Linked DNA regions of Homo sapiens. The protein of the gene in region 2 purifies or fractionates together with the protein of the main gene of each other region. This does not show direct contact. Each region holds a gene or a part of one and is shown on either strand. Other genes may lie near its edges. The genes, in order: REC8, CFDP1 and RAB18.

Region 1 (2,989 bases), on a different chromosome or scaffold from region 2:
CTCAATCTCAGCTCACTGCAATCTCTGCTTCCCAGGTTCAAGCAATTCTCCTGTCTCCGCCTCTCAAGTAGCTGGAATTACAGGCACTGCTACCAAGCCCGGCTAATTTTTGTATTTTTAGTAGAAATCAGGTTTCACGATGTTGGCCAGGCTGGTCTGGAACTCCTGACATCAAGTGATCCACCCACCTCAGCCTCCCAAAGTGCTGGGATTACAGACATGAGCCACCGAGCCCGGCCTTCTTGCACAAATTGATGAGGGCTAGATAACTGGGGTGCGGGTTGGGGAGGGAGGTGAGAACAGGAACTGAGGAAAGAAGACCAGAGGGCGGGTGAGTTTACTGCAAGCTGATGTCAATGCAACAAGAATTAGGCATAAAAGGAGATTACCGTGCATTGTTGAAGAAGGCTGTGAAAAGTGGGAAAGCAGGGGGCTGAAGCTGAACCCTATCTTTTGTTTCCAATCCCTCTCCAAAGATTCGACACCTCTTAGAGGCTGCAATCCCAGAGAGAGTTGAAGAGATCCCTCCTGAAGTTCCTACAGAGCCCAGGGAGCCAGGTCAGCAGAGAGAACCTTCTTTCTGGTGAGAGGCATAGGCAGGCCCAAGAGCTGTAGAAATGACCATTTTTGAGCTTAAGAGCCAGGCCTTGTGAGGGGCGCTTTTTTTTTTTTTCGAGGCAGAGTCTCACTCTGTTGCCCAGGCTACAGTGCAGTGGCACGATCTCGGCTCACTGCAAGCAATTGTCCCGCCTCAGCCTCCCTAGTAGCTGGGATTACAGATGTGCACTACCATGCCCGGCGAATTTTTGTATTTTTAGTAGAGATGGGGTTTCACCATGTTGGCCAGGCTGGTCTCAAACTCCTGACCTCAGGTGATCCACCCGCCTCGGCCTCCCAAAGTGCTAGGATTACAGGTGTGAGCCACCGTGCCTGGTGAGGGGCATTTTATGTGTATAACCTCATCAGTACCTCACAAGAGTCCTCTGAGGTCAGATTTCTTATCCTTTTTTTTTTTTGAGAGATGGGGTATCACTCTCTAGCCCAGGCTGGAGTACAGTGGTGCACTTTAGGCTCACTGCAACCTCCGCCTCCCGGATTCAAGCAATTCTCCTTCCTAGTAGCTGGGATTACAGGCATGCACCACCACGCCCAGCTAATTTTCGTATTTTTAGTAGAGATGGGTTTTTGCCATGTTGGCCAGGCTGGTCTCAAACTTCTGACCTCAGTTGATCCACCCACCTCAGCCTCCCAAAGTGCTGGGATTACAGGCGTGAGCCACCATACTCGGCTTTTTTTTTTTTTTTTTCTTTTTTTCCCAGGCTGGAGTGCAGTGGTATGATGATCATAGGTCACTGCAGCCTTGACCTCCAGGGCTCAAGCAATCCTCCCACCTCAGCCTCCAGAGTAGCTGGGACCACAAGGATAAGCCACCACACCTGGCTAGTTTTTAAATTTTTTGTAGAGACAGGGTCTCGCTATGTTGCCCAGGCTGGCCTCAAACTCCTGGGCTCAAGCGATCCAAAGTGTTGGGATTACAGGTGTGAGCCACTTCGCCCAGCCTCCCCACTTTACCGATGAGGAAAGTGAGGCTCACAGTGGTTAAGCAGTGTACCCAGGGTCAGGATGCCAGAGATTAGCCTGGGTCTGATTAGAATCCAGGTTACCTTGACTTCAGAGTCCATGCTTTTCCTTAACTGCATGGCTGTGGGAATTTGGAAAGAAGCAGAGAGGCTAGTGACTCTCTTGTCCCTCCAGAGAGGATTCCGGTCACTGTGCTGCCACCTGAGGCCATCACGATCCTGGAGGCAGAGCCCATACGGATGCTGGAGATTGAGGTGAGTTCCCCTGCACACAGGGCCTGAGGTCCAGCCCCCTTGCATGTACTTCTCTCTGTCCCCAGAGTCCTGCCTTTTCTGTCTCCATTTCCCTATTCTCTGTCCCTGGCACTTGAGCACCCAGTGGCTTCCTTGAACCTGGCCCTGTGGCATGCCTCTGGGATCCACTCTCCTGGATCCACTTGCCTTTTTCAGAAATATTATTGAATCCCCTCCCCTTGCTCTTCCTCTCTGGACAGGGTGAACGGGAGCTCCCAGAGGTCAGCCGCCGAGAACTGGACCTGCTGATCGCAGAGGAAGAAGAAGCTATCTTGTTAGAAAGTAGGTGTCTCCGGCAGCGTAGGGCCCGCCTGGAGCTGGATAGTCAGACCCCTGGCGTGGGCATTCTGGGACTGGGCAATGCTCCCATTTCTCTTTTTCTGTCCTCTGAACTCTGATTCTCTCTCCACAGTCCCGCGGCTCCCACCTCCAGCTCCTGCAGAGTAAGGGCAAGAACTCCTAGACCAGGTAGGGTGTCAGTGCTGGGAAGGGTCTCCTCATTTCTCTTGCCCATTTCCCCTCAGGGTGGAAGGAATAGGAGAGGCACTGGGTCCTGAGGAGCTGAGGCTGACAGGCTGGGAACCTGGGGCCCTACTCATGGGTGAGTGCCCACCATGCCCCAGGGGCTTTTCTGGGAGTACCTGGATACTGCTGCAGACAAGGGCTTTATATCCCAACTTGCTAAAGGGAGGACCCTGCAGTTTCTTGCCCTGGCATCTGCAAGGGGTAAGGGGCTTATGGGACAGAGCCCCTTGGGTGTTGTTGCAGAGGTGACCCCCCCGGAGGAGCTGCGTCTGCCAGCCCCACCCAGCCCAGAGGTGAGTAGCCTCCCTTCTAATCCTCCTCCTCCTCCTCTTTGCCCTCCCCCACAAGGACTGCCTCCCCAAGCCCAGGGCCACTGCTAGCTTACAGGGGTCCTTAATGCAGATGATAAAAGATGCCCCTTTCTACGCCCCATCGTATCTGGCCTACGCTTCCCAGATGGGTACCCTTATGCAAGGTATGAGCTGCTCAAGTGCATGGAGACCCCGCACAAGCCCTCTCCAGGTTCCTCTAGGGGCGGGTGTGGGGTCCTGTTAGCAGTCCACCAGAATGACAGGAAAAGGAGTAATGGG
Region 2 (3,752 bases):
CCAACATGGTGTAACTTCGTCTCTACTAAAAATACAAAAAAATCATTCGGGTGTGCTGGCGGGGACCTGTAGTCCCAGCTACTCAGGAGGCTGAGGCAAGAGAATGGCGTGAACCCGGGAGGCAGAGCTTGCAGTGAGACGAGATCCCGCTACTGCACTCCAGCCTGGGAGACAGAGCAAAACTCTTGTCTCAAAAAAAAAAAAAAAAAAAAAAAGAAAAGAAAAGAAAATCGATCGGGTGTGCTGGCGGGCGCCTGTAATCCCACCTACTTAGGAGGCTGAGGCAGAACTGCTTGAACCGGGAAGGCAGAGGCCGCATTAAGCAGAGACTGTGCCACTGCACTCCAGCCTGAGCCACAGAGCGAGACACTGTCTCGAAAGAAAAAAAAACACTGAATACTGATCTAACTAAAACTGGACACAGGTTCAACGGCAGACTACGGAGTTGGGGAGGCCCCGAAGGTGGAAGTGTTTGTGTGTGTGTTTGGGATGAGGGGAAGGAGGTCAGGGGCTACTAAAAATGATACCTACTATACATGGGTTAAATCAATAGACAACAGAAATATAATACCAAATTCAAAAGGTGGAAAGAAGTTTCTCCTGAGGAATATTAAATAAAATAGGGATGAGGGTGATGGGACTGGCTAACTTTTTTTTTTTTTTTTTTGAGACGGAGTCTCGCTCTGTCACCCAGGCTGGAGTGCAGTGGTGTGATCTCGGCTCACTGCAACCTCCACCTCCCGAGTTCAAGCGATTCTCCTGCTCCAGCCTCCTGAGGAGCTGGGACTACAGGCGCGTGCCACCATGCCCAGCTAATTTTTGTGTTTTTAGTACAGACGGGGTTTTACCATGTTGTCCAGGATGGTCTCGATCTCCAGACCTTGTGATCCACCCACCTCAGCCTCCCAAAGTGTTGGGATTACAAGCATGAGCCACCGCGCCAGGAATGGAATGGCTAGTTTTCAACGTGCCTTTTAGAAATACTTCACTAGCCGGGGCGCGGTGGCTCATGCCTGTAATCCCAGCACTTTGGGTGGCTGAGGTGGGAGGATCACTTGAGCCCACGAGTTCGAGACCAGCCTGGGCAACATAGCAAGATGCCATTTCTAAAAAAAAAAAAAAAAAAAAAAATTTAAAAAATTAGCGGGCGTGGCAGCCTGCACCTGCAGTCCCAGCTACTCCAGAGGCTGAGACGGGAGGATCGCTTGAGCCCAGGAGTCTGAGGTTGCAGTGAGCCAAGATCGCATCACTGCACTCCAGCCTAGACAACAGCAAGACCCTGTCTTTAAATAAAACAGAACAGAACAAAGTAAAACAAAGAGAATAGGGACGACTCCTGGGTTGTGTTTTGTTAGTCTGTTTGTTTCTTGTTTGTCTAGTCTTTCAACTGAAGATGTGAATGGGTGAAGATACTTTCAACGAGACGGTTTGTCTGGGGAAGACCAAGAAGGGGGAACAGAAAGATTTCTTCAGTAAGATTCATTCTCACCCCGTTCGGGTTGAGATCCCTAAGGAAAGAAAGTTCTGAGAGGAGAGGATGGGTGGACGTCACAATGAGGCAAAAAGCATCAAAGGGGGAACTTTCTATCAGAACTTTCTAACAACCAGGCGGAGAGCGGACAGCTCTATCTTGGACGGGGTGGTGGCCAGCAGCTCTCTCGGGCCAGGGCTGAAAAAAACCTCCAAGGCTCGGACTGCCGCCCCGACTTCTGAAGCAGCGGTGTCGTTCGGGGCTGACCGACGAGCGTCCCTAGCGACAAGGGGCCGTGTCCATGTGCCGGTTCCCGCGCTGCAAGAGGGGGCGGCGGCCGGAGCTGCCCAACGGGAGGGGAGCACAGAACCGCCACGCGCACACGCCTCGGGCCGGAGCGGCCGAGGATGAGGGGCCTGAGGGAGCGGACGCTCGAGAACAGGAGCCCCCCTGGACCACCTGGGCCACAGGGCAGACGCCCGCGGGGGCAGAGCGCGCCTCACGTGAGGCGTGGGGCGGGGCAATTCGCTTCTCGCCTCAGGCGGAATCGCTCACCCGACGGCACGTAGTCCTCGTCCTCCTCCGACGTAGAGAAGTCTTCGGAGTCGAATTCCTCCATGTTGCTGCCGCTCGACGCTGGTCAAACTCACAAGACCGCAGCAGCCGCCTCCAACGGCAAAGCTCTAGGGAGAGACCATAGAGCCCCGGCGGCGGCGACGGCAGCTAGGGCGGCCCCCGACAGCGCTTTGCACATGCGCAGAGAGTACTACGTGGTTGCCCTACGACACTTCCGGCCGATGCCTCCGGGCTGGCGTCCCTGAAGCCCTCGCTGGGAGCCCGAACCCGCCCGGACGCGGTGCATGCTGGAACTTGTAGTCTTCGGCGCTGCCTCGCCGCCTTAATATAATAAACCTGCTTAAATAAAATTACATATCTATGGAAATACAGGTGACCTTCATTAATCATTAATTCGTAATGCCAAATTCACTTACTTGCTAAAATGTATTTGTAACCCTAAAATCAATCATCACGGTACTGTCTGGGGTTCTTCCCGGGCATGCGCAGAGGGTGAAAATTTGGAGTTGGCGGAGGTAAGGTTCCCAGCTGAAGTTTGAACTGGGAGAAGCGCCGCCTTCTAGTCGCAGCTCCTGTGCTGTAAACAAAGAGTCCTTTCCGCAGTCTGTTTACTGACACTTTTTTTTCTGCTTTTTGTGGGTGGTTTTGCTTTCTAAAATGGCCCCCAAGCGTAGTGCTTAAGCTCTGCCCAGTGTTCCTAAGCGAAAGAAGACCGTGATGTGCCTTACGGAGAAAGTCCGCGTGTTGGATAAGCTCCAATCAGGCATGAGTTACAGTGCTGTTGGCCATGAGCTCAATGTTAACGAGTCGACAATCCGGTACATCAAGAAAAAGGAAAAGGAAATTCACCGATCTGTCCGTGAGGCCGCTCCGGATAGTGCTGAAGTGACCTCCATCGTGCGTGATGAAGCTATGACAAAGATGGAAAAGATGGAAAAGCGGCTAAATTTGTGGATTCATGAGATGTCAATCGATTAAAAAAAACATAGTGGACAGCATTGTGGTGAGGCTGAAAGCCAAAGATATCTGTGGTCACGTTACCCAGAGTCAAAGAAATGCTAAGCCCTTCTCGGCGAGTGCTGGCCGGCTCGCGCGTTTCAAAAGGCGATACGGGGTGAAAAATGTTAAACTTGCAGGTGAGGCGAGCTCTGCAGATCAGGAGGCTGCGGAAGAATTTTAAAAATACTTGCTAAGTGTTATACAGGAAAAGGGTTATGTGAAAGAGCAGGTTTTCAATGCGGATGAGACTGGCTTATTTTACAAGGATGTTGGCAAACGAACCTATATAATGCAAACGGCCTCCAAAGCCCCTGGCTTTAAATCATGCCAGGATCATGCACCCTTGTTATTGTGCGCCAATGCCAAGAGCGACTAAAGTGCAAACTCCTAATGGTGTAAAGAACCCAAAATCCACAAGCACTTAACGGGAAATACGTGAACCATCTGCCAGTCTATTGGAGGTGGAACAAAAAAGTGTGGATGATGTCTGATTGGTTCCACAACTGCTTCATCCCAGAAGCTGAACACTGTCTCCAGGGCAGAAACCTTGCCTTCAAGGGTTTTTTGTTTTGTTTTGTTTTGTTTTTTGTTTGTTTGGGTTTGTTTTGTTTTGGTTTGGTTTTGAAACGGAGTCTCGCTCTGTCGCCCAGGCTGGAGTGCAGTGGCGCAATCTCGGCTCACTGCAAGCTCCGCCTCCCGGGTTCAC
Region 3 (3,652 bases), on a different chromosome or scaffold from region 2:
GAGAATGTTTCATGTATACTTGAAAAAAATTTGTTGTTATACGGAGTATTCTGTTGGCTCTAATTGGCCTTCAAACCCTTTGTTTTCTGTTGATAATATATCTCAGTACACTATTCATAATTGGAAGTGGTGTATTAAAATCTCCGACTGTTTATCCTGTGAAAAAGACACTTTCACATGCATGTTTATAGCAGCACAATTCACAATTGCAAAAATATGGAACCAGCCCAAATGCCCATCAATCAATGAGTAGATAAAATGTGGCATATGCATACCATGGAATACCACTCAGCCATAAAAAGGAACAAAATAATGACATTTGCAGCAAACTGGCTGGAACTGGAGATCATTATTCTAAGTGAAGTAACTCAGGAATGGAAAACCAAACATTGTATGTTCTCATTTATAAGTGATAGCTAAGCTATGAAGACACAAAGGCATAAGAATGATACAGTGGAACTTGGGGACTCGGGGAAGGGTGGGAGAGGGATGAGGGATTTAAAAAACTACACATTGGGTACAGTGCACACTGCCCGGTTGATGGGTGCACCAAAATCTCGGAAATTACCCTAAAGAACTTATCCATGTAACCACATACCACCTCTTCCTAAAAACCTATTGAAATAAAAAAAAAATAGGATAAAGTATATGGGAGGATTTAAAAAAAAAACAAGAGGGTGATGTGCTCTGGTTCTGCAGGGAGAGGAAGGGGAGACGCATGGAAGCTCCGTGTTTGGGACCCTCCCAGACCTCATCCTTATGTGTTTCTCTTTTTGGTTGGTCCTGATATTGTATCCTTTGTAATGAAACTGTAATTGTAAAAATCTAAATAAAATGTAATTTGTGGGGAAAAAAAAGACGTTTTGGAATTCAGTCAGGCAATAAAAATAATCAGTATTTTCAGTGGAGGGCTTGTGTTTAGGAAAATAAATAAATAAATAAATAGAATCTCTGATGGTTGTAACACTATTTTTCCATTTAATTCTATCAAGTGTTTGCTTTGTATATATTGGACTTCTGTTCTGTGGTGTATATGTTTATAATTGTTGTATCTTCTTGAGAATTGGCCTTTTTATCAAAATATTTTGTTTTAGTCTCCTAACAGTTTTTGACTTAAAGTCTATTTTGTCTGATTTTAGAATAATTACCTTTGCTATCTTTTGGTTACTATTTGTATGGAATATCTTTTCCTGTCCTTTCACTCTCAACCTATATTTGTTTCTAGACCAAAAGTGAATCTCTGATAGAAAGCATGTAGTTGAATTTTTAAAAAGTATTCTGCCAATCTTTTGATAGGAGAGTTTATTCTATTTGCATTTAATATACCAATAAGGAAGGACTTCTGCCATTTTGCTATTTATTTCCTTAAAGAGTTTTTGTTCCTGAATTCTTACCATTACTGCCTTCTTATCTGTTTAGGGATTTTTCATAATAATATGCTTTGACTCTCTTCACATTTCCTTTTTTATCTATATTCTATATATATTTTCTTTGTGATCTATTTCAGTAAATTCTGGTAGCTTTTAATCTTTCAAGGAAATTGTCCATTTTTATCTGAATTGTCAAATTTATTGGCATAAACTTGTTCATAACATTCTGTCATTCCTTTAACTTCTGTACAATCTATAAATGGTGTGATTTTTTTCATCCTTTGTAATGATTTTTTTTGTCTTCTTTTTCCTGATCAATTTGACTAGAAGTTTATCAGTTTTATTGGTTTTCTTTTAGAAGCAACTTTTGGATTCATTGATTTTTGTTGTTGTTTTTCTGTTTTTAATTTCTGGTTTGAACTTTATTTTCTTTCTTCTACTTCTTCGGATTTAATTTGCTGCTTTTTCTATTGTCTTAGTTTAGAAGCCTAGGTCATTGATTTTAGATCACTTGTCTTTTCTAATATGGGTGTTTAGTGCTATAAATGTTCCTATTAAGTATTGCTTAAGTGGCATCATACAAATTTTGATGTTGTTTTTCTTTTTGTTTAAAATATTTAATTTAAAATACTTAGAACAATTTCATTATGATGTCTCCGAGTTTTTCTTCTTCTTTTTTTTTTTTTTTTTTTTTTTGCTAGGGGCTTATTGAGCTTTTTTGATCTGTGGATTTATATTTTTCATCAAATTTGAAATTTTTCAGCCATTATTTCTCAGATATATTTTCCCCCCTTCTCTCTTCTTTTTCCTCAACTCCATTGTTTGCATAATAGGCTGCTTGAAGTTGTCCCACAGATGATTGATGGTCTCTCATTTTCTTTGAACCTTTTCTTTCTGCTTCCTTTTGGGTAGTTTCTGTTGCTGTGTCATCACATTCACTGATGTTTTCTTCTGCAGCGCCTAATTTGCTGTTAATCCCATCCAGTGTATTTTTCATCTCAGACATTGCCATTTTTACCTTTTTTTTTTTTTTTTTTTGAGACAGGGTCTTGCTCTGTTATCCAGGCTGGGCTGCAGTAGCACAACCACGGCACATTTCAGCCTCGACCTTTCAGGCTCGATCCATCCTTGTACCTCAGCCTCCTGAGAAGCTGGGACTACAGGCGCAAGCCACCATGCCTGGCTAATTTTAAAAGTTTATTTTTGGCTGGGTGCGGTGGCTCACGCCTATAATCGCAGCACTTTGGGAGGCCGAGGCGGGCGGATCACGAGGTCAGGAGATTGAGACCATACTGGCTAACACGGTGAAACCTCGTCTTTACTAAAAATACAAAAAATTAGCCGGGCGTGGTGGCAGGCGCCTGTAGTCCCAGCAGCTTGGGAGGCTGAGGCAGCAGAATGGCATGAACCTGGGAAGCAGAGCTTGCAGTGAGCCAAGATCACTGCCACTGCACTCCAGCCTGGCCAACAGAGCAAGACTCCGTCTCAAAAAAAAAATAAAAATAAAAATTTATTTTTGTCAAGACGAAGTCTCGCTGTTTTGCTGGGGCTGGTCTTAAACTCCTGGCCTCAAGCGATCCTCCCACCTTAGCCTCTCAAAGTGTTGGAATTACAGGCGTGAGCCACTGTGCCCAGCCCATTTTCATCTTTAGAAAGTTCTGTTTGATCCTTTTTTATGTCACTCATGTCTACTTTTTGAACATGTGGTGTACAGTTGTAACATCTGTGTCAGTTCTGAGTCAGTTTCTATTGATTGATTTTTCTCCTCTTCAACAAGATGTGTGCTTCTGCTTCCATTAATATCTTCTGGTCTCCCATTCACATATATCTACTGTTGAGTTCATATTTTCTTTGGCCTTTTTCATGAAGGTTATTTTAGTTAAAACTAGATAATATAGTTAATGGAGCCTTTGAAATAAGCAGTAAGTGCAACATGAAAATTTACCAGTGTGCCTAAAAAAAGATTCTTGCAAAGAAACTGAATTAAAGATCATATTAAAAATGCAAACACAAATGAACAAGGAAAAGCTGAGATGACAGTTCTTCTGTTTCTGTTGTGAGCTCCATGTTATCCACATGAAGAGATTGAAGACACAGTTTAATCAAATTGGGTAAGAAACTGGCAAAATCAAATCTCTCAAAAAGACTCCCACTGCTGCTACCAATTAAGATAAATTATCAGCCACTTAACAAAAGAGAAGCATGATGAAGAAGCAGTTTTAGCATGTGAGATCTGAAGAGCTCAATTGCTGCATGTGAGATTCACCAGAGGAACCTAGGGA

Evidence for each region.
Region 1: the proteins of CFDP1 (region 2) and REC8 purify together in Homo sapiens (affinity purification with mass spectrometry; one large-scale study listed by BioGRID and IntAct). This does not show direct contact.
Region 3: the proteins of CFDP1 (region 2) and RAB18 purify together in Homo sapiens (co-immunoprecipitation; one large-scale study listed by IntAct). This does not show direct contact.

The regions. Positions count from the first base shown.
Region 1 is NC_000014.9:24,175,067-24,178,055, forward strand, and holds part of REC8 (meiotic recombination protein REC8 homolog), read left to right. Parts: intron 1-476; coding exon 477-558; intron 559-1,755; coding exon 1,756-1,835; intron 1,836-2,074; coding exon 2,075-2,156; intron 2,157-2,286; coding exon 2,287-2,317; intron 2,318-2,398; coding exon 2,399-2,475; intron 2,476-2,642; coding exon 2,643-2,692; coding exon of another isoform or gene 2,693-2,779; exon of another isoform or gene 2,780-2,811; coding exon of another isoform or gene 2,812-2,874; exon of another isoform or gene 2,875-2,989. UniProt on the Homo sapiens protein: Required during meiosis for separation of sister chromatids and homologous chromosomes.
Region 2 is NC_000016.10:75,431,263-75,435,014, forward strand, and holds the start of CFDP1 (craniofacial development protein 1), read right to left. Parts: upstream 2,242-3,752; 5' UTR 2,091-2,241; coding exon 2,027-2,090; intron 1-2,026. UniProt on the Homo sapiens protein: May play a role during embryogenesis.
Region 3 is NC_000010.11:27,521,223-27,524,874, forward strand, and holds part of RAB18 (ras-related protein Rab-18), read left to right. Parts: intron 1-3,652. UniProt on the Homo sapiens protein: The small GTPases Rab are key regulators of intracellular membrane trafficking, from the formation of transport vesicles to their fusion with membranes.